4 separate regions of the Homo sapiens genome follow, and all the other regions are reported to be linked to region 2. Evidence: microRNA targets listed by miRTarBase, many of them from high-throughput screens and not tested one by one. Region 2 holds a microRNA gene; each other region holds the end of a gene's coding sequence.

Region 1 (8,128 bases), not on the chromosome of region 2:
AAGGTTGATTTTACAGGCATCCTGGCTGGCATCTGCAGATTTTCTATCAAGGATGTCTATGAAATGTTCTTTAACATTTCAATATTCTTTAAGAATCCTGACACTTAATGGCTTATGTCAGTAAAAATATGTAGTCTAGACTGTTTTTTCCCCCCTTTAATATCCCACATGCATATCAGCTCAGGTCTTAAACCACCACCAACCCCCCACTGCTCCCCTCCCCCCACCACCAAAGAATGTTTCTACTGTAAATAAGCCATGGCATTTTAAAACCAATAATCAATTTTAAATCACTAATTAAAATAAATTATATAGAAACTTAAAGTAAATTTGCCTTGTGTTAATCCACGAGTGTTTCTACTTGGGTCTACTTATGTCAGTCTCATAAAACACTGATCTTCTAAGTTAGCATGGAAAGGACGGGACCAGATGAAGGGAGGTGGTATACATTTCCATGCCTTATTATAGTAACTAATTTCCATGCCTTATTATAGTAAGCAAAGAGCCAGAGTCTCTCTGTCTACTTATTTATCTTTTTAATGGCAACCACTAATGGCAGTAAAGAAGGGAGAGTACCCAATATCACCTAACCATACTTTAATTACAGTTGGGTAGCCACTTCAGGTAAGCTTAAGTATGTGTTAAATCTGAAGGTAACTGTTTTCTCTTTCCAAGATAAGATTGTTTGAGTTTTGGGTTTTAGGTTTTTGCTTGTTCCTGCATTTTTCTGTTTAATCACAAAAAAAAAGAATGTTATTTCAAGAATATTTAACATATGGCAAAGGAAAACAGTGAGCACTCTCCCGAAAGGAGAGGGGAGGAGGGAAGATTCTCAGGTAGCAAAGCGGGAGGGAGCAAACCTTAAGGTGATGGGTTGGACTCTATCTGCTGAGAACTGGGGTCTCAGCTGTCCATTAACAAGTTAAAAGGCGAGAAACTTAAACTCCATTGGAGAAGAGACAGGCGTCCACGCGCCTCAAGCAGTCTCTTTCTCTTTGTTTTTAAACGCTACTGCAGTGTTGTTTCTCGCTGTCTGAAAGGACCACAGCGTCTAAAACCCTGATTGTCATCCTCAGTGGGAGAACAGGTTTCCAATTTCATCAGCTGGACCCAAGTTGTGTGTGTGAGTACTTGGTTTAAAATATTAGAGAAAATGCAGCCTTTCCAGGGCAGCGCTTTTTCTGGGTAGACCAATAGCCAACAACTCGCCTATGATTTTGGCTATTTTTGTTCCTGGCTGGCTCACACCACTCGTATCTAACTCAACCCCTTTAGATATTCTTCCAGGTGGAATTATTGGATTCGGTCAGAATGGGGGAGGGGCCACTATGCCCTTAAGAGGCTCAGAAGTGCCTACCTGGCTAAGGTCGCGGAACACGCGTGCAGGCGATGAGACTGAGCCTTCGGGTCCCTCAGTGTGAATTGTCCATGGGGGCGCGGTGGGGACACACACTAGTGCGCTGGCTTCGGGCAGCTGAAGGAGGTAGTCTCCGAGAGTTTTTAGAGTCCCCTCCAAGGGAAAGCTTGGAAAAAAGAGAAATGGAGCGGAGAGAGCACGTGGGCTACCAGCGACCACCCTCACCTTAAACCTAACCCACCTGTCCCTGTCAACGCCACCCTAACAAATCAGGGCAGAAGGTGAGCCGCGACAGCCTGACCCGAAGCGCGCTGCAGACCTAGGCTGGTGCCTTCCCCTTGGGGCCAGGGCTGTGCGTGGGGGACAAGGCCGCTGCTCTCCCTAGGGCCGCTGGCTAAGAAGGAAATACCTGACCTGGCCCCACCAAGAAAGTGGAGCTCCTCCACCCCCAGTTCTGCTGGAGACACTAGAAGCCAGGGCCCCTCTCTCTGCCGCGGGAAGTTCTAGCGACAAGCCCAGAAAGTGACGTCCTCTCTACCTGGCACCCCTCCTCAGAGCGCGCGGGTGAAGAGTTTGGGTCCGAAAACCAAAGCCAAGACCCCAGGAAGCGAAGAAGGAGACAGGAGGTGTCTGAAGCAAGAAGGGCACTGGAGAATCGGCAGCAGGGCCTAGGCCGCCTCCGAACCAGGATCCAAGGCCTGCGCCATCTGCCCTGTGCGGGAAGCGCGGGGCCTGGGAGGCAGGGAGCGCTCACACCTGCGGTCGGGCAGGAGGCGCAACGCGCTGCCAGGGCGGCTTTATCCTGCCGCCACAGGGCGGGGACCAGCCCGGCAGCCGGGTGTCCAGCGCCGCTCACGTGCCTCGCCTGGAGCTTAGCTCTCAGACTCCGAAGAGGGCGACTGAGACTTGGGCCTGGGAGTTGGCTTCGGGGTACCCAAGGCGACGACAGCTGAGTTGTACCACGAAGCTCAGGCCGAGGCCTCCTCCCTTGTCTGGCCTTCGAATCCATACTGGCAGCCTCTCCTCTCAGGCACTCCGCGGGCCGGGCCACTAGGCCCCCTGCTCCTGGAGCTGCGCTATGATCCGGGTCTTGAGATGCGCGCGATTCTCTCTGAACCGGTGGAGAGGAGGCTCTGCCCCGCGCGGAGCGAGGACAGCGGCGCCCGAGCTTCCCGCGCCTCTCCAGGGCCCAATGGCAAGAACAGCCTCCGAAGTGCGCGGATGACAGGAAAAGATCTTCAGTTCTTCTGCCGCTAGAGAAGTGCGGGATACAAGCCTCTATTGGATCCACAACCTGGAGTCCTGCCTTCGGACTTTGCCAAAGACTTGCAGGCGGTGGGGAGGCAGTAGGAAATGAAGCCCCCTCCAGCCTCAGCCGCCGCCGCGTTCGGTGCAGCAGCAGCAGTGCCACTGCCACAGAGCAGAGGAAGGCCCGCTCCGCGCGAGTTCTGTGCCAGGTGTCCCGTTGGCCCTCAGCGGACAAGGGAGAGCCGCTAATAAGGGTCGCTGCTCAGCAAACTCAGAGCTCATCCATAAGTGCCAACGCCACTGCTTCTTTCTGGAAGCTTCCACTCCGGCCCGGGGTCCGGCCCCAGCCACGCTGTCCTAGCCCAGAGAACAGGTTCAAGAACGGTGGTGCCCAGCCCCAGCGGTGCCCTTCTCCGTCCCTGTAGCTCGCTGGGCTCTTGAGCCCCTACCCACTAAGCCAAAAATTCGGGAACCGGGAGCCAAACCCCTTGGCCTCTGAGAATTTAGGAAGCTTCGTTTTCAGCCAAGAGGTCAAGGCGAGCAGAGAGTGGGGACTCGAACAATCGCGTGTTTAGGTTTAAAACGTTAAAAAATAAACATCACTCGAGTGTTTTTTTTTTTTTTCATTTCACTTGGCACAATGCTGTATGGTTTCGTCCTACAAACTATTTATAAGCCGTTGTTCATTACTTTTGGCTACCGTTATGACATCTGTAGAGGAGAAACGAAAAGTGGCTTTAGATTCAGTTAAACTGCGACGCCCAGAAGGTAAACTGGAGGTCCCTTAACAGCTGGTTCTCGAAGATTTCCTCGAGGGAAGAAAAAAATATGGTTAGTTTCCCCTAATGATCTCTCTGAAATGATTGCCAAAAAAACTCAAAGCAATATCCAGCTTTCTCGCCTCCTCCTGCTCGCCCCTTTTACCCAGACTGAGCCGAGGATGGCGGAAGGAGGCACATTGTGCAATTTCTTATTAAACACATCTGGAATATGCGCGCTCTGGATTTAGTGCCAGGGGTTTTACAAAGAGTTTATGACTGTGACAGAAAATTGTCCTTTTAACAAGTTTACAAGCAGTAATCACGGGGGCTTTTACAGGACCAGCGCTCTTGCTCCTCGCCGGATCTGCAGACATTTCCAAGATTCACCAACTAAGGGAGCAGGAAGTGGGCCGGGGCGCCCTGCGAGACACAACTTCCACGAGCCTAAAATTATCCCAGGCGGAGCTGGGAGAGTGGAGGGTAGTCACCGGAGTAGGAAGAGACGGCATGTAAGAAATTAAAGTAATTGGCCCTTCCTATTTTCCAGAGAGATTTCCGCAGCGTCCTTTGAAGCCTGTCAGGGTCATTGAAAGCTATCTTTGTGCAGGGTGTTTGTTTTGGGGAGTGAATGTGAAGAATGTGAGGAGATTCCCTGTGAGAGCCCCTCCTGCAGAGGGTGGCATTTCTCCGTGGCCCAAGACAGGGAGAATAAACACCCTAGTGACTTAAATAAACACCGACTTAATGATCCAAAACACTAACAAGGGAGATTGGGACCCTGAGCTCCCAAACCAAATGATGGTCTCTGAGTGGCTGTGTGCACATCTGTCCATCACTGAGGGGGAAAAACGACTTTATAAGTAAAAGTGTGTACAGTTAAGTACAGTGACCATTTCTCCCTGGAACTCAAAGCTATTTGACAGTTTTAAAAAATAAGGCCTTGATTTCCCCAAGCACACCTCAGTTTTCTAGACCAGAACAGAAATAGGAAAGAGTAAGAAAGAAATAATATATTAATGGTGACAATTATAGATGGGAAAAAATCAAAATTATGAAACTGTCATGTCAGAAAATAAATAGATTCTCCCTGGGGAACAATATTTTACAAAGCACAAGCAAGCCAATCCTGTTATCCTGAGTAGAATTTTAATAAATAATGCCATTTGTTTCACTAATTTTAAAAGCTAAATACAGAAGATACATCATTTTGCCCCAGGCAAAAATAATATGGAGCCTACATGATTACTGGGATTTTTCTAGACACCATCCGGCAGCACTGCAAAAGAGCTCCTGTCCTGCTGGTCTGCTTTCTATTTGTACAAATTAATTCACAATGTTTCTATCCTTGTTCTCCTTCCCTTTTTTGTCTTCAAGCAGATAAATTATTTTTACTTTCACAGTCTTGTCATAAACTTGTTAACACAAAAGAGCTTAGTTAACATATGAATGCTGTGAAGAGATAGTGGTAAACAAAATTGCATATCTAAATAATAGAAGTTAATAAATACCCCAAGGCTAAATTCACTCTTTCTGTCATATAATTAATCTAGTTACTACTCTTGGTTCAGATGATGGCCTTCAAAGTACCCTGCAATTCACAGCCACCATTAAGTAAGAAAGAAAAATATATTTAAAAAAAAAAATAGGGCCCAATGACAGCAATACACCACTCACCTTTCAGAAACAGAATCATACTCCTGGTGTTCTACTAAGTTTTAATTTAGACTGCTTTAGGTACAATAGAAAAGAAACCTGAAAACACATGCTGTTTTAGTAACAAATACCAGGTTGCCAGATTCGTTGGCATACCTTTGCAAACTAGAAACTAGAAACAGGAGAAACCCTTTACAGGAGTAGGCTACAGATATGAAAGCTTTGAGGGCATGAGTAATGGCATTCAGGAAAGTGTTTTTTCACATTGGTACATTTTTAGAGTTTGTCATTTAAAAAAAAAAAACCCAAGAAAACAAACAACAACCAAAAAATCCCACTAAATTTGACAAAAATAGTTGCATTACTAATGGTCACGTCTATTTCTGTCTCACATAGAGAGCATTAAGACATTTAGGCACTTGTTTTTTCCTCCTAATACTGGTCTTTTATTTTAATCTACATTAAATTGTTTAACACTAAATATGAAAAATGTAAACTTAATTTTTCCTCATCAAAGAAAGTTATAGATTGTATTTTTCCTGTTCACCTTAAGAATGTAATCAGTTCTTCTGAGCCTGGAGGCTCTTATTTTCACTATTTTTATCTCCCTTTCTCTTTCTCTTTCCATTTCCTTTCCCTCTTCACATTTCTCCATATATAAATTAAAAGGAAATAATGAAAATCCAGTTGATTTGCAATTCCCATTCATTGAAAAAAAAGAAAGGCTGCTGAAACAGGCGTATCAGTTGCCCAGAACTCAGACTGGGTGCCTGGGTGCTTTTGTTTGTTTGGGTTTTTTTTTTTTTTTTTCCCTGATCTCTGCATTGGGAAGGAAAATGCAAAAGTGGAAAGAGTTGGAGAGAAGAGGAGATTAAGCTTGAGATCGCTGTTGGTTTTGATTTTTAAAAAGATATTTGTGAAAGTCCACCATTCCTTTATGCGCAAACAACTCCAGAAACAAGCTGCAAAAATGTTCCTGATTTCTATTTACAAGTGTCCCTAGTCGCTGCAGTGGTTGCTGCTCCAGGAATCCCTTCGAGGCCCCAGTCCCTCCCCACTTAGGACCCCAAGTCCACCAGACTGGAGGTGAGGGGGCCGAGCAGAGAGTCTTGGAGCTGATGCTGGTGGGTCTGCAGGCCGTGACTGGGCTGCGAGGCTGTTAAGCCCGGGAGAGAATAGTTTGAGCTCCTGGCGTGGCCCATATTGCCCTGCAGCAGAAGGACCGAGTTCTGGTCTGGACTTTGGGGAGGTGAGAATTCCTCTTCTGAGCTGGACATGAGCGGCTTGCCCCCTTCCAGAGGAGAGAGTTGGTTCTGCTTGTTGGAGGAGGAGTTATTGTTTTCGGTGTTCTCCCTAAGAAATAGAGGACAACACCATATGGTTAAAAAAAAAAAAAAAAAAAAAAAGTAGGTTAAAAAAAAAGTGTGAGATGGAGGGAGGGGAGCTGGAAGGAGGAAAGGGCCATTGTGCAATCTGTCACCAACCCAAATGGAGGAGCTCTACCCTTCCACCCATCCCCAAGGGTAATGGGGGAGGTGAGGAGTCAGAGGAACCTGGAGAAATGGAGAGCTACGGACAGAGCCTCCTGTTAGGAGCCAGGTCCTTTTCTCTTCCAGATTTCAGAAAGTGATAGATTAGCAGGATTTATTTGAAACATACAAAATATATGTTTTAAATTTTGTTCAAGCAGTTACATTTAAATACATATAAACTAGCAACATATTTAAATGTAACTGAAAATCTTTCAATAAATAGATATTGGTGATAAAGAAATGATAGAGGACAGAGTCCAATGCACAAATGTTTGGGGTGAATCAAGTCCATTGCCTTGTTCGCATATGAGGAGACAATTAAACATCCCGTTTTCCTGCCCCAGCCCAGAGTTGGTGGTTTTGCAGACACAGAACAGGTCATGGGAAGTGGTGCCCAGCGCGGCCCAGTGACCTGAGTAAACACAGGGAGCGCAGCCAGTCTCTGATTTCATCTGGAGTCGGCCCTCGGGCCTGGCTTATAGGACGGCCGTTTTGTAACTAAAGGCTAACTGCAACCATACAATCCCTGTTCCTGTGTTACTTGCTAACTCTTCAGCCCCTCGTGTCCCCCTCTCAAACTTCCTACCAACACCCACCCCAACCCATCCTTTCTGGGCAGGGGAAACTTCGCCGCCCCGCACAGGCTGCCAGCGGGCGCGGCGCGCTGGGGCGTCAGTCCGGGCACTCGGTACCGGTTAACTTCAGGATTTCGCTTCCCTCGCCGCTTCCGCCTTCCGAGTGCTCGTCAGTCCTCCCGACTCCTAGCGCCTGTCTGTCTCCTTTCTTTCCCCTTATCCTCACAGTCTCTGTCTCCCGACAAGCCCATTTCAGCAGAATTTATCCTGGCTCTGGTTTTCCACCAAGACAAGAAAGGGAGCAAGATCTTCGGCCCCTAGTCTTGGAAGCGAACAAAGGAAAACCTAACCGGCCCCTGCGCTCAGGTTTTCCCCCAAACTCTTTGGCTTCGCGGAGCGCTCTCCCCGCCACAGCCACCTCCCCACCGTCCTTCTGAATCTCTGTCCGAAACGCTATAGAGAACAGAAGGAGCCTGCCCAGGTGGCCGAAGGTGTTGCCCCGAGGTGGGGGAAAGTAGAGACCAATTTTTAAAATATTGCCTTGTGAGCTCCAGTGCGAGAGAGGGCTGCGACTGGAGACCCTTTCCTCGTCTGGGCATGCGGCGCGGTCAGCCAGACCGACGGGCTGCAGTGCCGGGCCACGCGCGAGCGAGCACGGCGAGGATCAACCCTTTCTTAATTTGGGGCGCCGGGGAGTAAATGCAGCGCCAACTCTCCCCAAAGCTCTCTTTTTGTTGTATCTTTAAAAGTCTCCTCCATTTGTCCAGCTAGTGAGAAATGAAGCAGGCTACCTCTAAACCAAAAGACTATCAAGAGAGAGCTGTGGAGAACCAGGCGGGAGTGGGGGCAGAGCCAATGTCTCAGGCCAGCTTCACCCCTCTGGGGAGCAAGAGGAGAGAGGTTCGCGAACCTCAGCTCCCACCAAACCCCTTTCCTTGCGACACCAATCAACATTTCACTGCCCGTTGATTTAGAAACTCACTCTCCACCCACCACTCATAG
Region 2 (5,357 bases):
GTTGAGAGATGGATGGAGGCCTACATCAGGGTGATCGTGGTGAAGGTAGTAAAAAGTGGTTATATTTTAAAGTTACAGCCAGTTGAGTTTACTGATACATTGCATGTGAAGTGTGAGAGAAAGAGGAGTAGGAGACTGAGCCCTCTCTTCCCTCTTTGTCACATATGAGTTGGGTACATATGCTGACACTGCCTCTTTAATCTGTAGCATCCGCATGCAAGTGCTGTCCCAGTGCAGTACACCTGGGCTAGGACTCACAGATGGTATGTTATGCACAGAGCAGAGAGTGCCTGTCACCTCTCCTAGTTCCTTTCAGAGAGCTTTTTGAATGCCTGTTGGATTTGGGGATCCAATAGTGGCAAGAGCATCAGGGACCCTGGTTTTACTGTGGGGTGAGCTTGTGCCAGAGAACACAGTTCATCATTCCCATTCAGCCTGCCTTCATGTGTTCAAGGGGCTGGAAAAGGGGAGCTTTTTCTTTCCTAACTCCCATGCTATCCTTGGGGTACAGGTGCCTGAGCCTTCTCATTTGCTCCTTCTCTTTAATCCTTGATACTGGTACTAGTGCTCTCCACATGCAATGCACCTTGGCAGGGATTCAGATGGGGTGAGCCTTAGCTGCAGATGGAAGGACAGAGCCCTTGTACATCGCCTACCTCTCCTGCTGCCTGCCAGTATTATTTACTCCTGTAGGGAGCCAGAAGAGAACAGTACAGCCACAGTCCCCTGAGTGTACTGCCTAGCTAGCACATATAGGAGGATAAAGCTCATTTGTACTCACTGTGCAGGTGTGCACACATGCTGGGGATACTGGAGAATGAATTTACTTTAGTTCCCACCCCCCAAGCACCCCACCTTGTCCCCCAGGATGGTCAGGCATCTAGGGATGTAGACCTGTATACACGGAGTCCCACTGATCAGGTAAGCAGTGGGTGGTTCCTTCCTGCCCTAACTCTACTCTCTTTGCCCTCCCAGAAAGGGCAGTGAGCTGTCTCGGCATTCTTCCCTTAGGTAGCTGTTGAATGAAGATGCACTTCCTTGTTAATGTTCTCTCTCACAATCACAGATACACAAATACTCGTATATGCACATGTGCACAAGCAAGGCATACAGGAGAATGAGCATGCAAGGGAGGCCCACATGTGGCTGGGTGCCCAGCATATGCAGACATGTGAGCATACAGGGACAGGAGAGACAGGAGCCTTTTTGATTATACTCACAGGGCCAGATGCCCCCATCTTTACTCATTTTCTGTCTCTCTCTCTCTCTCTTTCTCTCTCTCTCTCTCTCTCTCTCTCTCTCTCTCTCTCTCTGTCACACACACACACACACACACACACACACACACAGAGAGAGTGGAACTTCTGATGTTTTCCTTCATATCCCTTATGTGAAGGGGCGTGAACTTTGTTGACCTAGGGAGATTGAAGGAGAACCTCATCAACTCACACGTGAGGAATTTAAGAGGATGAATCTGTGTATCCCCTTGTGCAGGCACTCACACTCACAGATACTCGGACCTCTTCTCTCTCACCTGTCCCTTGCATGCAGGAGTTTCACCATCCCCCTTAAAAATGCACATTCATTCAAACACATATATACATAAAAATAGAGAGTAAGAGGTAAAAATATTGACGGCTGTGTGCCAGGTACTATACTTTATTTCATTTTCTTGACACCATTTAAGAGGTAGGCTTTAAATTGTCCTCATTCTTCAAAAGTGTTTAACTTGACCTTGGGAAAATCAGGTCGATTCTCTAGGCTAATATGTGGTAGAGCGTGCATTTGAACCAAGGTTCGTAGATACCAAAGTGCCTGGTTTTTCCACTACATTAGTGATTCTCCCAGTGTAGTCCCTGGACCAGTAGCATCAGTATCACCTGAGAACTTGTTAGAAATGCAAATTCTTGGGTCTCACCCCAGACTCACCAAGTCAGAAACCTCTGTAACCTGTATATTACCCAGGTCTTCAGATGATTCTGGTGCATGTTAGAGAACAACTGTGCTAAACTGTACTGCCTTCTTGTTGCATAGTCACACAAAGCATTTGCGGGATCATGAGCTTTGGCGTTATATTCATTCTCTCTTTCCTCCCTTTCACACTCCTCTCTCCTCCCAGTCTCTTTATAGGTTTATACTTTTTTGTTGTTACTATCTGAGAGAACAGACAAAATGTGTGTTTAACTAGACATCTTTAATGCAAAGCTCAAGAACTGTTCTCTTTACTTCTATATCATGACAAGTAAGTACCTTGTGTGAAGAAGAATGAGCCCTCTCACTGAACATTCACAGGGCTTTGTGTTCTGCTCCCCCTCTCTAATCCTTGCTACCTGGGTGAGAGTGCTGTCTGAATGCAATGCACCTGGGCAAGGATTCTGAGAGCGAGAGCTTCATCTTCGTGTAGGACAGAGCGTCTTTCTGTCCTCCTATCATCCATTCCACAAGTATTTATTGACCACCTTTTCTGTATATGATACTAAGTTGAGTAATGAGCATACAGTTGCTAACAAGACATGCTTGGTCCCTACCCTCATGGAGCTACAGTTGAGGAAGAAGAATGGAATTCCTCATCATCCATTACACCTACATGCCCTGAGAGTGGGTGGGCCACAGAGTGGACTTCTCATTACCACTGTCACCCACAAACATACACAAAAGCATGAATCTTCTCTGATCTCACATGGAACTCTGCAGGAGAAAAGATTCTCTGCCTTTCTGTAAAGTCCCTAGTAAATGACACTGTATATACATGAGAGTGAGACTTGGTTATAGCTACACATGCACACATACAAACACACAAAAAGGGCAGGTGTCAGAGCCTTCTTGTCTGCTCCCCCTCTTGAATCCTTGGAACCTAGGTGTGAGTGCTATTTCAGTGCAACACACCTATTCAAGGATTCAAAGAGGCTGAGCCTTGTCTACATGTAGAAGGACCAACAACCTGTCCCCTTCTTTCACATGTTTGTGTTTGCTATGCGGTGCCAGATCCTGCACTGGGTGGTGGAGATACAACGGTAAATAAGACAGCTAAGGTCCCTGGGCTCTGTAGAGGGCACCTGTGGGAGAATGAACTTCATCATTGCCCTGGACAAGCTTACACCTCTTTGAGAGCATGAGCTTTCTGTTTACTCCCAGCTTACTATGTGTCAGATACTGTAATGGGGAAACACACATTGGGTGATGAGACTTGCACAGCCAGTCTTTGCTCTCAGTGAGCTTATAGTTTACCAGAGAAACAGAAGAGAATGAAGTATCCCAATTTTCTGTACCATCTTCCAACATGTGCATGTACATGTGTGCCCACATACAGTTTGTCCCAACCTCCTTGCTAGGCCCCAAATACATCCAGCACCTGCAGACCCTCAAGTGTGATCTGAAAAAGATGCCACTCATATCTTTCATTCTAGTCTGAGGTTTTGTCTGAGAGGGCATGTCCATGTGGCCTTGTGCAGGGGGATGAATACATATGCTATCCCTGAGGAGAGGCATCTGTCTTAGCAAATGCACACAGAGATACTTTGCAGGAATGGGACCATGAAAGTCAAATATATATGGAGATATACATGCAGGGTGCAGGTGCCTGAGTCTTCTGCTCTGCTCTTCCTCTCTAATCCTTTGTCCCTGGGTGAGAGTGCTTTCTGAATGCAATGCACCCGGGCAAGGATTCTGAGAGGGTGAGCCCCCTCTGCGTGGAGAACAGAAGATCTGTATGTCACCTCTCAGCTGCTTGCTGCTTGCCTGCCTGCTCTCTGACCCTCATTCATTCTTTCCTTCCACAAATAATATGTATTGGGCACCATGATGGGCATTGGACACAGAGAAATGAACAAGGCAGACTTCGCCCCTGCCTTCCTGGATATTATAGCCTGAGAGGAGAATGGACTTTGTCACCACTCATTGCCCCTGCATATACTGAGGGTGAGTGGGCCACATAGGAACTTCTTATCTACCCTCTTCCCACCTTAACCCACCCATAAGTGTGAGTCTTCTCATTCCTGCTGTCACATTGATACTTGTTTCTTGTTTTTTCCTTCTTTCCTTCCTTCCTTCTTTTCTTTTTCTTTCTCTTTCTTTTCTTTCTTTCCTTCCTTTCCTTTCCTTTCTTTTCTTCTCTCTTTTCTTTTCTTTCTTTTTTGATGGAGTATTGCTCTGTTGCTCAGGCTGGAGTGCACTGGCACCATCACAGTTCACTGCAGCCTCAACCACCTGGGCTCAAGCGATCCTCCCACCTCAGCCTCTCAAATAGCTGGGACCACAGGCTTGTGCCACCATGCCTGGCTAATTTGTGTTTATTTTTTGTAGAGATGGGGTCTCACTATGTTGCCCAAGCTGGTCTCAAACTCCTAGGCTCAAGCAGTCCACCAGCCTTAGCCTCCCAAAGTGTTGGGATTATAGGTGTGAGCCACTGCACCCAGCCTGATACTTGTCGAAGCAACTTCTCTCTACTTTAGTTCAATGCAAGGTTAATGCACTAGGCAAGAACAGCAAGCCTTCTTGTTAGATGCACATGTGAGGTGTACAGGTACTGGAATCTCCTGTCCTGGTTCCCCCTCTCTAATCCTTGCTACCTGGGTGAGAGTGCTTTCTGAATGCAGTGCACCCAGGCAAGGATTCTGCAAGGGGGAGTGACATCTTCGCATAGGACAGAGCACTTCTACCTCCTCCTTCCATCCTTTCTATGACTATTTGTTGAGTACCTACCTACTCTATTGCAGGTGCTGTCCTGGGCAGTTGGCCCACAAGAGAATGAGCCATATCTGGTTCCCTACCTTCATGGAGTGTACAGTTCAGGGAGGAGAATGGACTCCTTCTCATTCATTATATCTGCATGTCCTGAGGGTGGGTGGGGTACAGGGTGGGTGGGGTACAGATACATGTTGGAGAATCTACTAAACCTCAGTACAATCACACATAAATACGCTGTGTGCAAGAGAAAGGGCCTGACTTGGTTACATCCACAGAGACATGTCCTCACAGAGTGGTCCCTCTGACCTGGTGCATCACTCACATTCTTTCAGCCTGTGTGCCAGTACTGCCTTGACTCACTGTCCCTTTTCAAGAATTCCAAGGGAAGAAGCCTTGTCTACACTTAAAAGGACAGAGCTTTTGCACATCAACTCTCCCTCCTCTTCCTTCCACAGATACTCAAGTGTCTATTAGACAGCAGGTATTATGTTCATCACCAAGGATATAGCAGGGATCAAAATGGACAGGTTGCTACCCTACATTCTGGTAGGGACTCATAAACACACTATACATAAATGTTGTGGATGAATAGGCCACTGTTCAAAAGAATGAAGTAGATCTATATGTTCCTTGTTACCCAGTCTGCATGCACAAGCATGTGCAGGTTCTGC
Region 3 (8,128 bases), not on the chromosome of region 2:
AAAAATGAAGACATAATTTTGTAGTATAGAATTTTCTTGGCCAGGAATGGTGGCTCATGCTTGTAATCCCAGCACTTTGGGAGGCCAAGGTCAGAGGATTGCTTGAGCCTGGAAGGTTGAAGATGCAGTGATTCATGATTATACCACTGCACTCCAGCCTGGGCAACAGAGCAAGACCCTGTCTCAAGAAAAGAAAAGAATTTTATTTTTCTTTTCAGACAAAAATAGACTTTAAAATAATAATGGAAGAACAAATATGATGATCACAATTATCAGAGTAATTACTTTATGACAGTCAGCAATAAGATTCTAATCTTTAAATATTCCTCTGCTTAAATCATTATATTGGAGTTTTGATCTATAATATATTCCCACCCTGACCCAAAAATTGAAGAAGGACAAGGAAAAATGTTGTTCCAAGAAACAAAGATGTAAGTAAAAAGGCATAAGGAAGGAAAAAAAACTTTTGAAGCAAAATGTGATTGAGGAGGATGAGCAGACCAATTATTTTTGGTTTGGTCAGCTTACATAATGATTATCGTTCTTTGGTTTCTCAGTTTCTAGTGGGCTTCATTGTTTGCTTCCCAGACCAGGATGAAGACACTCCAGTTTTTCTTCCTTTTCTGTTGCTGGAAAGCAATCTGCTGCAATAGCTGTGAGCTGACCAACATCACCATTGCAATAGAGAAAGAAGAATGTCGTTTCTGCATAAGCATCAACACCACTTGGTGTGCTGGCTACTGCTACACCAGGGTAGGTACCATGTTTTGCTGGAAGCAAGGGTGTTGAAGGTCTGTATTAGGCCGGTTTCATTAGTTTCTACTTTATCAATATTTTATGTATTCTAAGTAACAGCCATGAGTCCTTTAGCCAAGACTGTCTGTGTTGTGATTGGGGTTAATGACCACGATATCACTTAGATGTTTGGGCTTGGATTTGATTTGGGTAAATTTAGGAAAGCCTCAGATTTAATCTGATCAATTTGGTACTAGTCCAACTTTGCATCTACAGGGAAAAAGTATTTCTATGTTACGTTTTTACACATAGAGAGATAAACATGGAAACATACATATATTTAATCATAAAGGACCTATAATATTCTCATAAAGGCAATTTCTTTAACTGACACTACATCTTTGACACAAAATCACACCAAAATATGTCTCCAAGTCACATAAAAACATAGACAGCCACTTAAAAAAATTGTCTTCCTGGCCCTACTAAATACAAATGCCAAAAAACAGCCTGAGAACACAATCAATTCTTGCAGACTGTTAGAACAAAAATGAATCAGCAAACCCACTCCCTTCGTTATAGCATTGAGAAAACCAAGACATAGAGGCATCAGTTGCTAGTCTGTGTTTGCAGTTTCCTTGCATTAATACAAGTAGAGAAATAGTTTCCATGGTGCTTTCTTTTTTCTCTGCAGCACCCCTAATTATCTATGCAGAATTTCATTCTATAAACTAAAATTGAAAATGGCAACTTTTTAAATGAACGATACTTTATTTGACGGTAAATGAGTTTGATCAAACTCCATTTATTACACAATTTATTGCACCTTCTTGGGATATACATTTGGTAGGATGATATTAAAATAAACAGAAGCCCCAATTTCTCTACGCAGTATAAATAATTTTTCCACTGGAAAGTGCTACTACAAATAATTTCTACCTGGATTAAAAATTCTTATATGCAAACTGCATATCCTTTGAAACTAGGAACCCTGCAAAGTATACAGCTTTCAAGGGAGAAAAATGTCCACAAGGAGTTGGAATATTTAAAATCTTATGTTAGCCTTAGCAAACATGTTAACTTAAGCATTAAAATTTAAAATTATATATTTTTGACCTTTTATAAATACTCAGGGCAGTGTATTTTAAAATATTTTTTCTGAGACATTGGATATCTTTGTTTATGGTTTGTTATTAATACAGCTTTCAATTAAATATGAAAAGTCAACTTAAAATCCTGTCATGTTTTTCATCATTTTTCTATGCTAAAATTCAAAGTTCCTTTATATTTTGAAAAATAGTTAATATTTTGATATAGCCATAGGAAGTAAGAAAAGAAATTACTTGTATTTTCTGGAAGATTTCAAGAACAATTTAGAAATGTAAATAGCATATAGGTCATTTATGAGGTCATGTTTTAATGGGTAAATGTTAGAGCAAGCAGTATTCAATTTCTGTCTCATTTTGACTAAGCTAAATAGGAACTTCCACAATACCATAACCTAACTCTCTTCTTAAACTCCTCAGGATCTGGTGTATAAGGACCCAGCCAGGCCCAAAATCCAGAAAACATGTACCTTCAAGGAACTGGTATACGAAACAGTGAGAGTGCCCGGCTGTGCTCACCATGCAGATTCCTTGTATACATACCCAGTGGCCACCCAGTGTCACTGTGGCAAGTGTGACAGCGACAGCACTGATTGTACTGTGCGAGGCCTGGGGCCCAGCTACTGCTCCTTTGGTGAAATGAAAGAATAAAGATCAGTGGACATTTCAGGCCACATACCCTTGTCCTGAAGGACCAAGATATTCAAAAAGTCTGTGTGTGTGCAATGTGCCCAGGGGACAAACCACTGGATCAGGGGATTCAGACTCTACTGATCCCTGGTCTACTGGCAGAGGGAACTCTGGGAATTGAGAGTGCTGGGGGCCAGGACTCCATCATGATTCAGCTCTATATTCCTAGGTCTGATTTCATAAGGTTTATTCAGTCTTAACTCACAGACTTGTGCCTGGTTTCTTCTTTAAAAATCTTAGAAATCTTCTCAGGCAATGCCTCTCTCTTAGGGGGAAACATAAGCCTAGAAGGAGGAAGCAGTAATGGGAGTGAGTGAAAGAACTAACTGCAGCAGTCTTCTGGTAGACTCTTGGGCCCTCTAGAGCAAGGTCAGCATCTTCAGCATTGTAGCGTCAATGCCTAGCACTCTGCCTGGAACTTAGAAACACAACAATGACTTCTTTAGATCAGAAAGGTCAAGGGTAGAAAATACTGGAAGACGATGTTTGAGGTAAGCTGATGAGGCTGCCCGCAGCCACACCAGTCCCATGAAAGTTAGTGGCATCAGTTCCACCTCGCCTTTTCTCCAGCACATGGAGTATTGAGACATGATGTATCTTTCTGAATTGTTTGGTACAGATGGGGAGTAACAGAGCTCAAGATTTCCAAGCTATTACTACCAAGCCTGTTAGTTAAGGGCAAAGGCAAGAAATTGTAATTTGGGGCTGTGGAAATTAGCCTGCCTCTATTCATTACTTAAACAAATTGATCACATGCTACTAGGCTCCTGCAAAACTCCTTTTTGAGATAAAGGGAAAAAACCAAACTATCTCACCCTACCCTCCCTAGGATCCACTTCTTTGGAATGACAAAGGATTTGAAAGTAGGTTTGAAAGCAGTTTCAGCAATTTAATAAATATAATTAATTTGTCTACAAATATATTTGTATAAATAAATAGCTCCTTTAGAAAGAATTAGCCATGGGGGACGAGGGGAAACTGCTGTTTTCTAGGATCCTGTCTACATCAATCTTCTATTTTATCCATCCATGTTCTCCCAAATCTGTGCTTTCTTTCAACAGGTTATATATTAAAACTATTTCATGAGTTGATTTCTTTTAAACGTGTTAACTGTCTTAGTTATGCACTCAGTTTCACACTCATATTGTTTAACTAATTTATTTAAATCTTATTTTTTTAATAAAGATGCTAGCCACCAGAGTCACAGGCTTGGATTGTTTTATGTACAAACAGATGACTTAGATATTCTGTATTTTATAATATTAGTGGAATGAAATCTTAAAATATAATTCCCAGTGTTTCTATAAATATTACCTTTCCTTATCTTTGGAGATATTAAAAATAATTTTGTTGGATTTCTGAAGTGTTTTGTCACTTAAATTTCCTGTCATTTTTTGAAGACATTTTCTGATGTAATTTGGGAGAAAAAAAGCATAGAGAGAATCACAGAATGGGTGGAGATACTAGAGTTTCTATAGTTTACTTCTTGAATTTTTGAGATGGAAAAATTAAAGCCCAGTGATATTAAGTGGCCCACCCAAGATCACTGTCCTAGTCCTTTTGGGCTGCTATGACAGAATACCTTAGACTGGGTAATTAATAAACAACAGAAATTTATTGCTCACAGTCTGTAGGCTGGGAGGTCCAAGATCAAGGTGCCAGCGGATTTCTTGTCTGGGGAGGGAGGGCCTGCTCCCTACTTCAATGCTGGTGACTTTTTGCTGCATCCTCATACAGTGGAAACAACGGAAAGCTCCCTCAAGTCTCTTTTATAAGAGCACTAATCTCATACATAAGAGGTCCATTTTCATGATCTAATCACCTCCTAAGGCCCAACTTCTTAATACCACCACAATAAAGATCAGGGTTCAACATGAATCTTGGAGCAACATAAACGTTCAGACCACAGCAATCACAAAGACTGTTTGTGGCAGAGCCAGGATTAGAATCCTAGCCTCCTTGCTCTTAATCCGGCTCTCCTTTGACTACTCCACCATAATAAGAAGTCATTTTGGTAAAGATTGAAGCAAAACTACAGATATTATTATAATAATCATCTCTGTCCCTTCTAATCTGGTATTGGGTGTGGCTTATAGCAATGCATTGAAATTAGGGCTATATTAACAATGTTGAATAAGATGCTTTAAATTATAGCCTTTTCCTTCTTCCTGTAGTTTTGCAGACCAAAATAATAAACCTTTACATTAGGGAGAGTAAAGGACAATGGCTTCAGATTTATGTTGTCTCAATCATCTTAAGCAGATGTGTCATCTCGAACAAGTTACTTAAATTCTCTGGACCTCAGTTTCCTCAACTGTATAATGGGGATAATAATATTTCCTGCTTTAGAGAGTTGTGTTCATGATTAATGAAATAACAGATAAAAGGGCTTAGAGCAGTACTTGGCACATAGTAATTCCTCAATAAATATTAGTTGATGGTTGTCCCTTGAGAGAGACAATGCAGTAAAATGGTAAAGTCAGATTTAAGTTAAGGACAACCCAGCTCATACTCTTTCTGGTCTGAGCAAACTAGTTAACCCCTTTGGGTCTCACCTTTCTCACTTTTAAAATGGAGTAAAAATGGTAACTATCTCACATAGTTGCTGGCAGATTTAAAAATATAATGCAGTTAAAGCACTTCAGAGGCCAACAGAGCTATAATCCTGCTGGAGAGAGTCCCCTTTACCACTTAGTTCAAATGGCCAAGGTCAAAATGCGAGTAAAAAGCAGAAGTTTCTTCTTACGGCACTCCCATGCCAAATAGGAGTACACTCCTTTCTGGAGCAGCAACAAAAACCTGTGAACCCTCCAGGTGGAGGCCAAGAAAAGGTCCATCTCCATGGGCTGTCATTTTAGTTGAAGTCTGATAATCCCTTCTCAGCACTATGGTGGACATCTCTTGGCTCTGGGCAGTCCTCGCATGACTTTAAGAATTGTATGTCTAGGCCGGGTGTGGTGGCTCATGCCTGTATTTCCAGCACTTTGGGAGGTCAAGGCAGGCAGATCACCAGGTCAGGAGTTCGAGACCAGCCTGACCAACATGGTGAAACCCCATCTCTACTAAAAATACAAAAATTAGCTGGGCATTGTGGTGCATGCCTGTAATCCCAGCTACTCAGGAGGCTAAGGCAGGAGAATCACTTGAACCCGGGAGGCAGAGGTTGCAATGAGCCGAGATCGCGCCATTGCACTCCAGCCTGGGCAACACAGCGAGACTCAGTCTCAAAAAAAAAAAAAAAATTGTGTCTAAACCACAACTTTGACCATGCCAATTAATTAATGAGCTTTCCAATTGTTTTCAGGAAAAAAAATCTTAATTCTTAGCTGAAACATGAGGCCTATCATGGTCTGACCTCTGATTATTTAACTTCTTACCTCTTCCGCTCCCCACAAGGGTTGCTGAATCTAGAGATTAGTTTTGAGGATTGAAGGATTGGGGGCCTTCCATTCCTGAAATGCTTTAACTAAAATACCATGCCATTCATCCCATGAGATATTTGGTGGACTATAATTGAAAACTGGTCAGTAAGTCAGCAGCACTTGAATCATAAAAATGTGAGGCCAGTACATAAGAATAATAAACACTGAGTTCATGGTAGTGAGGAAGGTGAAGGAGAAATGGAACTGTGGAAAAGTACCCAGAGAGCCTCAAACTGTATTTATAATGTTCTATTTCTTACAAATATGATATAATGTTAATATATAAAAAACTAGGAGACTGCTGTACAGGTGTTTACTATATTCCTGTAGGCATGTTCAGTGTTTACTAGTTGACAACTAACATGGCATCTTTTTATGCACTGTACATTTAATTTAGATTTTATGCCTAATATAAGAAAAGTGAAATGGGCCCGGAGCCTAGTCTGAAGTCACACAGCTAGTGTGCAAAGCCTCAATCATTAGTATGCATTTAGTGACAGAGGTAGAGAATTCAAATCTACTTACGAAGATATGTGCCTATGTCTTCCTGGGTATAAAGCTGGACAACATTTTCCCACCTTCTTTGCAATCAAGTGTATCTGTGTGCCAGCTAATGGAATGTGGGCAGAAGTACTGCACATATTTTCACACACAGCCCATAAAAACCTCTCATAAGTGATCATCTATTCTCTTCCTCTATTTGCTGGATGTCAATCCTGAAGGTGACTAGGAAAGTTTGTGTTGATGAAAACAGAACCATTGTCAACCTGGATCCCCGAATGTCTGCATGGAGCAGTGTGCCCAATATCAACAACCCCTTATAGCAGGCTGTGTGGATGCTATGCATCAACACCGTAAACTTCTAGTCACTGACATTTGTGAGTTTATTCGTTTTAAAAAATGCATTATTTTAACTTACAAATATTGGTACTGGAAGTGGCGTGTTGCATTAATGAAAACCTTAGCACATATGGCATTGGCTTAGTGGTTGTACAATAGGAGAAAAGAAAGTAGTAATCATAGTGGCAACCAAAATGAGTGATTGAAAGGCACGTCTCAGTCACCAAGGTTTATTGTGCCAGTTTGAGGATGCATCCAGGAAAAACTCAAGTAACAGACACATCTGTGGCTGTTTTTCCAAAGAGGTTCTCGGAGGTTTAATATTTATACATTTTCTTTTACAAAGGTAGAGGAGTCGGTGCGGCAATGAGACAAATGATTACATACTTGTGAGATTTTAGTTAGTACTCGGTAAATCTACATTTTATGTAAGATAAGGTGAACAAAGTAAATAGGAATGGAGGAAGCAGACATCTCAGCGTAGAGTGAAGGAATGATTACTCTCATCTTCTCTTTGTTCTGTACCTGGGAAAATAAACTAGTAGATATTATCAGAGTGGACTTTTTTTGAAAAAGCTGGTGTCTAGTTAGCTCTTAGGGAAGAAAGCCTAAGAGCTTGGAGGGAATATCATGAAGCCTTTCGGACCTCCCATCCCATCATGCCATGAACTTAGCTTCCAAGTTTTCTATGGGGTCCCCTTGGCCAAGAGAAGAATCTGTTCTGTCAGTTAGTGGTTTAGAATGTTATTATTTCTCAAGAGTACAACTTTCGGCTGGACATGGGGGCTCATGCCTATAATCCCAGCGCTTTGGGAGGCCAAGGTGGGCAGATCACCTGAGGCCAGGAGTTCGAGACAAGCCTGGCCAACATGGTGAAACCCCATCTCTGCAAAAAATATAAAAAATTAGCCAGGTGTGGTGGTGCGTGCCTGAGGCCTAAGAATTGCTTGAAACCAGGATGCAGAGGTTGCAATGAGCTAAGATGACACAACTGCACTTCAGCCTCAGGGACAAAGTGAGACTCACAAAAAAAAAAAAAAAAAAAAAAAGAGTACAACTTTCACCTGGGAAAACATGAAGGCTGGCCACATGCCTATTCAGTCCTTAGCTTTATGGCAGGGTCAGCAAATTATGCCCTGAAGGCCAAATCTGGCCCATCACCTTTTTTTTTAAACAAAGCTTATTGGAACACAGCCACCCTAATTTTTTACGTATTGTCTATGATTGCTTTTGTACTACAAAAGCAGAATTCAAAGACCATATGGCCCACAATGTAAATAAAATATAATTTGAAACTTTACAGAAAAATTTGCCAGCCTCTGCTCTAAGGGAAAG
Region 4 (7,652 bases), not on the chromosome of region 2:
ATCGTCCTGGACCCTTCAGGCTCCATGAACATCTACCTGGTGCTAGATGGATCAGACAGCATTGGGGCCAGCAACTTCACAGGAGCCAAAAAGTGTCTAGTCAACTTAATTGAGAAGGTGGAATCCTCCTATCCCTGAACTCGGGGGAATGGAATCTCGCTGATCTTCCAGGACTAGCTCCCTGATCATTCCAGCCCCTCTGAACAACAGGGCCCCAGGAAAATCTCCAGGTCCTATTCTGTCCTCCTTCCCTTTTACTTGAAGCAGTTTCTTGACTGGTAATTCCTCCATGAACCTCAGCCCTTGAGCCTCTTACTGAGAGCCTCCCTGTCCCAGCAAAGTCGCTGAAATCTCCCAATCACAGTATTCTATTTTCAATGCCATGGCGCCTTGTTCTCCTCACCCACAGGTGGCAAGTTATGGTGTGAAGCCAAGATATGGTCTAGTGACATATGCCACATACCCCAAAATTTGGGTCAAAGTGTCTGAAGCAGACAGCAGTAATGCAGACTGGGTCACGAAGCAGCTCAATGAAATCAATTATGAAGGTCAGAGGTTAGGGAATGGTGGGAGGTTCACTTTGGGGTCAGGAGGTTCAGGGTGGAGGGGGTCATGAGACTACCTTGAGGGCGACAGGGAGGACCACTTTGTAGTCAAAAGTTGAACAGCAGGATCGTTGGGCAATGGAGGTTAGTGGGAACCTGTTGGGGGCTGGAAGGGCCACTTTGTGGTCAAAGGGAAGTCCGTGTAATGATGATTAACTTAAAAAGTTGAAAGATGTGGGATTTCAGTTGCAGATTGGTCTCTGGGGTTAAAAGATGGCTTGGAAGACCAGGTGAGGTGATGGTCTCTTCCCTCTCCACAGACCACAAGTTGAAGTCAGGGACTAACACCAAGAAGGCCCTCCAGGCAGTGTACAGCATGATGAGCTGGCCAGATGACGTCCCTCCTGAAGGCTGGAACCGCACCCGCCATGTCATCATCCTCATGACTGATGGTCAGAAGGGACCTCTCTCCTGTCCCAGCCTCCCCACCTTCTCAGACCAGCATGTGGCCCTTAAGTCCACTTGTAACACTATACCCATGGTTGGGGCCCTGAATGTGACTCATAGCTGGCTGTTCATCTCTCCTGTGACCCTTCATAAGGAATTCTTCCTAAGCCCTGTGATCAACTATCTCTAACCCTTCCTCAACTTGCTCACCCTGCCATGTGTATCCCTGCCTTTAGCCAGTTTATCTTCCTTATCTCCTACCCTCATGGTCCTGTCTCTTCTGCAGGATTGCACAACATGGGCGGGGACCCAATTACTGTCATTGATGAGATCCGGGACTTGCTATACATTGGCAAGGATCGCAAAAACCCAAGGGAGGATTATCTGGGTGAGTAACCTGCCTAGGACCCAGCACCCCACTTCCTCAGGGCTTGGACCCTCATCCTTCCTTTTTATCCCTCAGATGTCTATGTGTTTGGGGTCGGGCCTTTGGTGAACCAAGTGAACATCAATGCTTTGGCTTCCAAGAAAGACAATGAGCAACATGTGTTCAAAGTCAAGGATATGGAAAACCTGGAAGATGTTTTCTACCAAATGATCGGTAGGGAGATACAAGGGAATAAAGAACACAACTCTCCTCAGGTTCCCCTGAAGTAATTCATTCTTCCTCTACACCTGAAGCTCTAGTTGCCTGGAAAGCCTTCTTCATTCCTCCTTCTCTACCTCAGTGTCACTATTCTTGTTTCCTGGCACTGTTCACTTAACCTTAGAATCACAGAGCTCTGAGCACTTCAGAGATCTTTCTATAGTCCTACATTTGACACGTGGAAACAGAAGCCAAAGGAGGTCAAGGGACAGCAAGTTAGCAACAAGGGTGGGCTTGAAAACAGCCAGGCCTCTGACAGCTTGATCCCAAGTTCTTTCCCTTTTCAGTCCACCATAGCAGTTTTCTCCTAACACGAGGAAACAAATACCCGTGGTCTTTCCCTTTCTCCTTTTGGGCCTTTGCTCCCCATAGACTCCTACCCAAAAGGCTGCTGCCATTTGGGAATGAAGTGTTCCGAGTTTTCAGCACATTCTCCTTCTCTGCCAGATGAAAGCCAGTCTCTGAGTCTCTGTGGCATGGTTTGGGAACACAGGAAGGGTACCGATTACCACAAGCAACCATGGCAGGCCAAGATCTCAGTCATTGTAAGCACAGAATCCCAGTAGTGGGGACTTGGGGGAGGTGAGGTCAAGGTGAAATGGGAGTAGGGGAAGGAAAAAATGGCCATAAGAGATGGTGGTTTGTGAAAGTTGAGCTTTCCCTCTCTACTGTTGTGTCCCCAGCGCCCTTCAAAGGGACACGAGAGCTGTATGGGGGCTGTGGTGTCTGAGTACTTTGTGCTGACAGCAGCACATTGTTTCACTGTGGATGACAAGGAACACTCAATCAAGGTCAGCGTAGGTAAGGATGCAACTGAAGGTCCTGGGCTGCACCTATGCTCTCCAGGCAACACCTCCCACTTTCTACAGATCCTACACTCCACCCATCCTCAATGCAGCCCCATTCCTTGCACCCCAGACCAGTCAGGGATGGGGGAAGACGTGAAGTTAGGAATGACACGGGGCCAGAGGCAGGAAGCTGCCCACAAAGAGGTGGTACCTACTCTCCTACTTCAGGAGGGGAGAAGCGGGACCTGGAGATAGAAGTAGTCCTATTTCACCCCAACTACAACATTAATGGGAAAAAAGAAGCAGGAATTCCTGAATTTTATGACTATGACGTTGCCCTGATCAAGCTCAAGAATAAGCTGAAATATGGCCAGACTATCAGGTGAGAGCGTCCAGATCCCTGAGGAAAGGCTGGGAAAGGCTGGAGGACTGGGGTGAGGAGCAGGCCTGGTTTGCTGTTCTCCTTGTCCTTTATAGGCCCATTTGTCTCCCCTGCACCGAGGGAACAACTCGAGCTTTGAGGCTTCCTCCAACTACCACTTGCCAGCAACAAAGTAAGACATACTTGGCAAGAGGATAAGGATGAGATCCCAAGAGACAAGTGGGGCATGAGAGGGAGGTGCAATAGGAAGAGATGATGCCTGGCCCAGAACCTAGCTCTAGAAGGGCTTAGGGGACATCTACTGAGTGACAAAGGCAATGGGGAGATGACAGTGGTGGGAGCAGCTGAAGTGACGCAGTCTATTCGTCCAGAGGAAGAGCTGCTCCCTGCACAGGATATCAAAGCTCTGTTTGTGTCTGAGGAGGAGAAAAAGCTGACTCGGAAGGAGGTCTACATCAAGAATGGGGATAAGGTGAGAAACGGGCATCCTAAGGAGGCACTCTAGGCCCCAATCCTTCCTAAGCCACTTCTGTTCATTACTTCTCCATGCTTCCCACCTCCCCTACAGAAAGGCAGCTGTGAGAGAGATGCTCAATATGCCCCAGGCTATGACAAAGTCAAGGACATCTCAGAGGTGGTCACCCCTCGGTTCCTTTGTACTGGAGGAGTGAGTCCCTATGCTGACCCCAATACTTGCAGAGGTGAGAGAATGCTCTTTGGTTGTGCTACAAGTGCCCAAGGCCCAACAGTCCTTTTCTCTACAGCTTCTCCTCTCCTTGCAGGTGATTCTGGCGGCCCCTTGATAGTTCACAAGAGAAGTCGTTTCATTCAAGTGAGTCCTCCCTTTCCTATCTGGGGAGATGCCAAGTGGTCAGCATGGGCCCCAAAGCAGGAAAGCTCAATGCATGTGGCTAGTAATTCGAGGTAGGCAGAGCCTGCCTCACCTTAGGACCGCATGTCTTGCCTGCGTGTGTCAAGAACGAGGCTGAGCTGGGTCCCTAGTCTGATTCCTTTAGGTCAGCTAAGACACAAGCAGGAACAGCCATGCTTCCAGGATTAGGAATTCTACTGAATGATCCATGGCACCCCACTGCCTCTGCAGGTTGGTGTAATCAGCTGGGGAGTAGTGGATGTCTGCAAAAACCAGAAGCGGCAAAAGCAGGTACCTGCTCACGCCCGAGACTTTCACATCAACCTCTTTCAAGTGCTGCCCTGGCTGAAGGAGAAACTCCAAGATGAGGATTTGGGTTTTCTATAAGGGGTTTCCTGCTGGACAGGGGCGTGGGATTGAATTAAAACAGCTGCGACAACACCTGTGTTCCAGATCCTTTTGGGGCAAGGGAGTGGGGAACAGGCACTGGCCATGTTGTTACACTGAGATCAAACCTGACAGCCGTTTTTAAAGGTTTAACCCCAATCCCAAGTGCTGAAAAACCAGAGGCTGAGGGAGATGTGTAAGCTTCCACCTCAGTGTTTTACTGAGACCAGCATTGGGGCATATGAGGCACAAGGAATCCAGCTCTGTTCCCTAGAAGCCATCCACAAGGTTTTCCTTGTAGACGTCATCACTGTAGACAATCTGGGTCCTCTTGTCCCGGTGGCAACCCTTAGGGCTGTTCTGGACAGCTAGGGAGGGAGGAGAGGAACAGTTAAGGTCTAAAGGAGATCATAGAACAGACCCTGAGGCTGACTCCTGACCACCTCACTCCTGGCCACTGGCCCCTGGAAGCCCAGTTTCCACGCTGCCCTCTGGTGGCCAGGATGGCCTGTCTTCCTTAGCTCCTTTGTGCCAACCCATGGCCAAGAAAAGTATAAGTGGACATTTTGATGAATGTTTTGTTCTTAGAAAAATCCCAAATGTCATTGTTGAGACACGTGAATGATATTAACCCACTACTTACAGTCAGTATGTCAGAAGCTAAAAACTAGAAAACCTCTGTAGCCCTTTTTTGACATGCTGGTCAATTCTAGTTCCTTTCTTTTGCCTGAAGGGCCACTGTAGCTGAGCCCTTCTTTCTGCTCACTCCTTTCCCAGGAAAATCTACTTTCAGGGAAAATGGATTATTCACACTAAGAAATGCTACTAGCTCCACCAGAACTCATTCAGGGTGTAGCTTTGGCCCTCACCATTCTCTCTCAAGCCTCTAGCTGTTTCTTCCCCTTCCTCTTTCCTCCCTCCACCAGACATGTTACTCTCTTCACCCCATCCAATGGTTCCATCCCCACCACCCTTGAGCTACAGAGAATCTCTCTCACCCACTCCCATCCTGTGATCTCTGTGCCTCAACACTGCTGGCTACTCCCTCTTTCTCAAAGTGTGTGTCCTTTTGCTTCAGTGGCCCAGGCCCCTGCGGTGCTGCTCCCAGCCCTCCGACCCCTCCTCCTGTCTCCTTTGCTAACGTTAGGCTCAACGTTAGCCTAACATGTCAGGACAGCTGGGGACATGTGGGGTGTGAGGTGAACAGTCCTGTTTCCTAACATAGTCCCAGAGTACTCCTCAAACTGAGTCCTGGGTCGTTTTTTTTTCTCTGAAATCAGAGTCTCCCTGATGATCCTATTGTTTGGCAGCCACCCTGTGATGTGGATGACTTAATCTATGTTTTCCTTCCTTACCTCACACCTGAGTTCCAGATCCCTGATTTCGAATACTTATGAAACTCACTCTACTCCATCTCAAAATGAACAAGCCCCATGAGACACTCATCTTCCTCACCAATCTCACTCCAGCTCCCACTTTCTTCCCTGTTCCAGTCACTGCTTTGGAAGCTGTTTTCAATCCTTTTCTCTCCTTTCTTTACCTCTAACTGACAGAGGATCTGAAATTTTCCTTCCCATTCCCATAGCCTCCGCACACACTCTGACCTCGATCATCTCTAGGAAACCCAAGGATGTGTGGGGGAACCAAAAGGAATGGCCTGTGGGGGAGAGGATGGGAAAGGAAGAATCCCATTCTTACCGAGGGAGCCCCAGACAGACTTGCCAGTAGCGGCATCCAGCATGGGCTGTTTTCGGGCTATGTTGACTTTGAGCTGTACAGACTCCACCTGGGTCCCGTTGAGCTGAAGCAGAAGAGGGGAGGCAGAGGATGGGGAGGAAAACATTACAGATAAACCAAAGAAGTTATTCCAGGAGTTGCTATCCTAGGAGGAGACTGAATAAGGAATCTGAGAATGTGAGTTTTTCTGTGTGAATAGGGAGAGGCTTTCTTTATCAAGAGGAACCAACTTCTTCCTGGCATCTAGTATTTTGAGGAGAACACATGAGAACAGCAGAAGCGATGGGAAGAACAGATTTGGGAAGTTCCAACCTCAGCAACGGCCTGATCTGCTGACTCCATCTTTTCATAGGTGACGAAGGCACAGCTGGGATAAGAGAAAACACGGTCAGTGGAGAGCCAAGGGGCTCTTCTGGACCCAACCAAACCCAGTGATAATAGGCGGCTGCAGGGAGGGCAGCTTCTTCCCTCAGGTCTCACACCCCAGGATTCTCCCAGGACTTCTCATCATGCCCTGTTGTCATCCTTACTTTCTGGGTGGGTCCATGGAGAGGTCAATGATGTTTCCAAAAGGAGAGAAGGCCCCACGGAGAAGGGTGGGTGTCATGTCTTCTCCATATACATAGAGAGTATTCCCTTTCCTAGGGGCTCGCCGTTCAGGGAATGAATCCGACCCTTTGGGAGCACAAATCATAGTCACAAGACATAGACCATGCCACATTTCACTTAGTAGGACCCACATAAACCTCAGTTAAGGTCACCTTGACCTCCAGCCAAAATCACTCACTGCGGAAAGGACCCTCTCGGTCTCGGTCTCGATCCCGCTCCCGATCCCTGTCCCGTTCCCGGTCTCGATCTCGATCCCGATCCCGATCCCTGTCCCGCTCTCTGTCTCTGTCTCGATCCCGGTCTCGATCCCGCTCCCGATCTCGGTCTCTGTCCCGGTTCCTCTCATGGCTGCGGTCCCGGCTGCGGCTTCGGGGAGGGGAGGCTGAGGAGTGGGCACCACTGCGTTCTTCATAGCCCCAGTCAAAGCTTCGAGGGGGACCATCACCAGCCCCTGGGCCCTCTGCCTCTTCTCCATCTGGTCCTAGTTCTCGAAGTCGATCACTAGAAGACACAAAGCTGGGGAGATGCAGACTGAAGATCAAAGGGGGGTTTTACCTTCTCCCCTCAGACCCTGTGGAGACTCAATATTCCCTCTATAGCCCAGCTCCTACAGCCCAAACCTCCCAAGGACTCAGGCAATCAACTCCACCAAATGGGCCCAGCCTTATCTCTACTCTCTAACCTCTCATACAGAGATTTCCTCTGGGGACGTCTGGATGACTGTAAAAGAGACCAAGAACAGTTAAGATGATTTCCAGTTGCTGACATGTGGTCCAAAATATATTTGTCTCTCATATTCCTCCATCCCCAACCCCTCAGGGACAGAAATTAGGAGCCTTTACCTCTTGCAGGTCATCATCAGCAGATATGCTCCTCTGGAACGGCTGGAAAGTGGGGACTGGTCCCTTCTCGGGGTCCTGGAGTGGTGAGAGACCTACCTCAGTGTGGAGCAGGAGGTTGCCCAACCATGGACCAGAGGTGTTCCTCTTCCCTCACCCTCTTCTAGGTTTCCTCTGATCTTTTCTTCCCTTTTAATTCTACATACATTTCTTATTTGACGTGGTTTTACTTATTTTTTTTTTTTTTTTTTGAGACACGGTCCTGCTCTGTTGTCCAGGCTGGAGTGCAATAGAGCAATCGTAGCTTGCTGCAGCCTTGACCTCCCATGCTCAAGCAATCCTCCTACCTCAGCCTCCCTAGTAGCTGGGACTAGAGATGTGCTCTACCATGCTTGGCTAAT

Evidence for each region. Region 2 holds the annotated microRNA hsa-miR-501-5p (AAUCCUUUGUCCCUGGGUGAGA, at 3,610-3,631, shown strand). A microRNA usually pairs through its seed, bases 2 to 8, with sites in the 3' UTR of a target mRNA and lowers its output. Matches are read on the target gene's strand: a 7mer-m8 pairs with bases 2 to 8, a 7mer-A1 pairs with bases 2 to 7 and ends in A, and an 8mer does both.
Region 1: miRTarBase lists SIX1 as a target of hsa-miR-501-5p. Seed matches in the 3' UTR shown: 7mer-A1 at 4,707-4,713.
Region 3: miRTarBase lists FSHB as a target of hsa-miR-501-5p. Seed matches in the 3' UTR shown: 7mer-m8 at 3,382-3,388.
Region 4: miRTarBase lists NELFE as a target of hsa-miR-501-5p. Seed matches in the 3' UTR shown: 7mer-m8 at 4,133-4,139.

Annotation. Positions count from the first base shown.
Region 1 is chr14:60,640,206-60,648,333 of GRCh38, forward strand. It overlaps SIX1 (SIX homeobox 1), which reads right to left. Exons shown (of 2, transcript NM_005982.4): 2 at 3,216-6,372. The coding sequence ends at 6,078. It overlaps SALRNA1 (senescence associated long non-coding RNA 1), which reads left to right. Exons shown (of 1, transcript NR_126480.1): 1 at 1-211. Among named protein-coding and RNA genes, the nearest start is that of MIR9718, 4.4 kb to the right of the region's middle. RefSeq lists enhancers at 3,699-4,261, 6,691-7,313, 7,314-7,935, 7,936-8,128.
Region 2 is chrX:50,006,126-50,011,482 of GRCh38, forward strand. It overlaps MIR501 (microRNA 501), which reads left to right and starts at 3,597; the gene lies at 3,597-3,680. All of the region lies in intron 3 of CLCN5 (chloride voltage-gated channel 5), which reads left to right. MIR500A (microRNA 500a) reads left to right here and starts at 2,306; the gene lies at 2,306-2,389. MIR362 (microRNA 362) reads left to right here and starts at 2,839; the gene lies at 2,839-2,903. It also overlaps MIR500B.
Region 3 is chr11:30,231,309-30,239,436 of GRCh38, forward strand. It overlaps FSHB (follicle stimulating hormone subunit beta), which reads left to right. Exons shown (of 3, transcript NM_001382289.1): 2 at 558-753; 3 at 2,262-3,886. The coding sequence starts at 595. The coding sequence ends at 2,492. All of the region lies in intron 1 of ARL14EP-DT (ARL14EP divergent transcript), which reads right to left. Among named protein-coding and RNA genes, the nearest start is that of FSHB, 4.4 kb to the left of the region's middle.
Region 4 is chr6:31,947,965-31,955,616 of GRCh38, forward strand. It overlaps NELFE (negative elongation factor complex member E), which reads right to left. Exons shown (of 11, transcript NM_002904.6): 5 at 7,255-7,329; 6 at 7,095-7,132; 7 at 6,591-6,928; 8 at 6,334-6,478; 9 at 6,116-6,170; 10 at 5,765-5,867; 11 at 4,123-4,434. The coding sequence ends at 4,337. CFB (complement factor B) reads left to right here. Exons shown (of 18, transcript NM_001710.6): 6 at 1-117; 7 at 410-548; 8 at 866-997; 9 at 1,279-1,380; 10 at 1,456-1,593; 11 at 2,086-2,183; 12 at 2,322-2,439; 13 at 2,655-2,808; 14 at 2,904-2,980; 15 at 3,180-3,280; 16 at 3,377-3,509; 17 at 3,591-3,640; 18 at 3,911-4,120. The coding sequence ends at 4,066. Among named protein-coding and RNA genes, the nearest start is that of MIR1236, 5.1 kb to the right of the region's middle.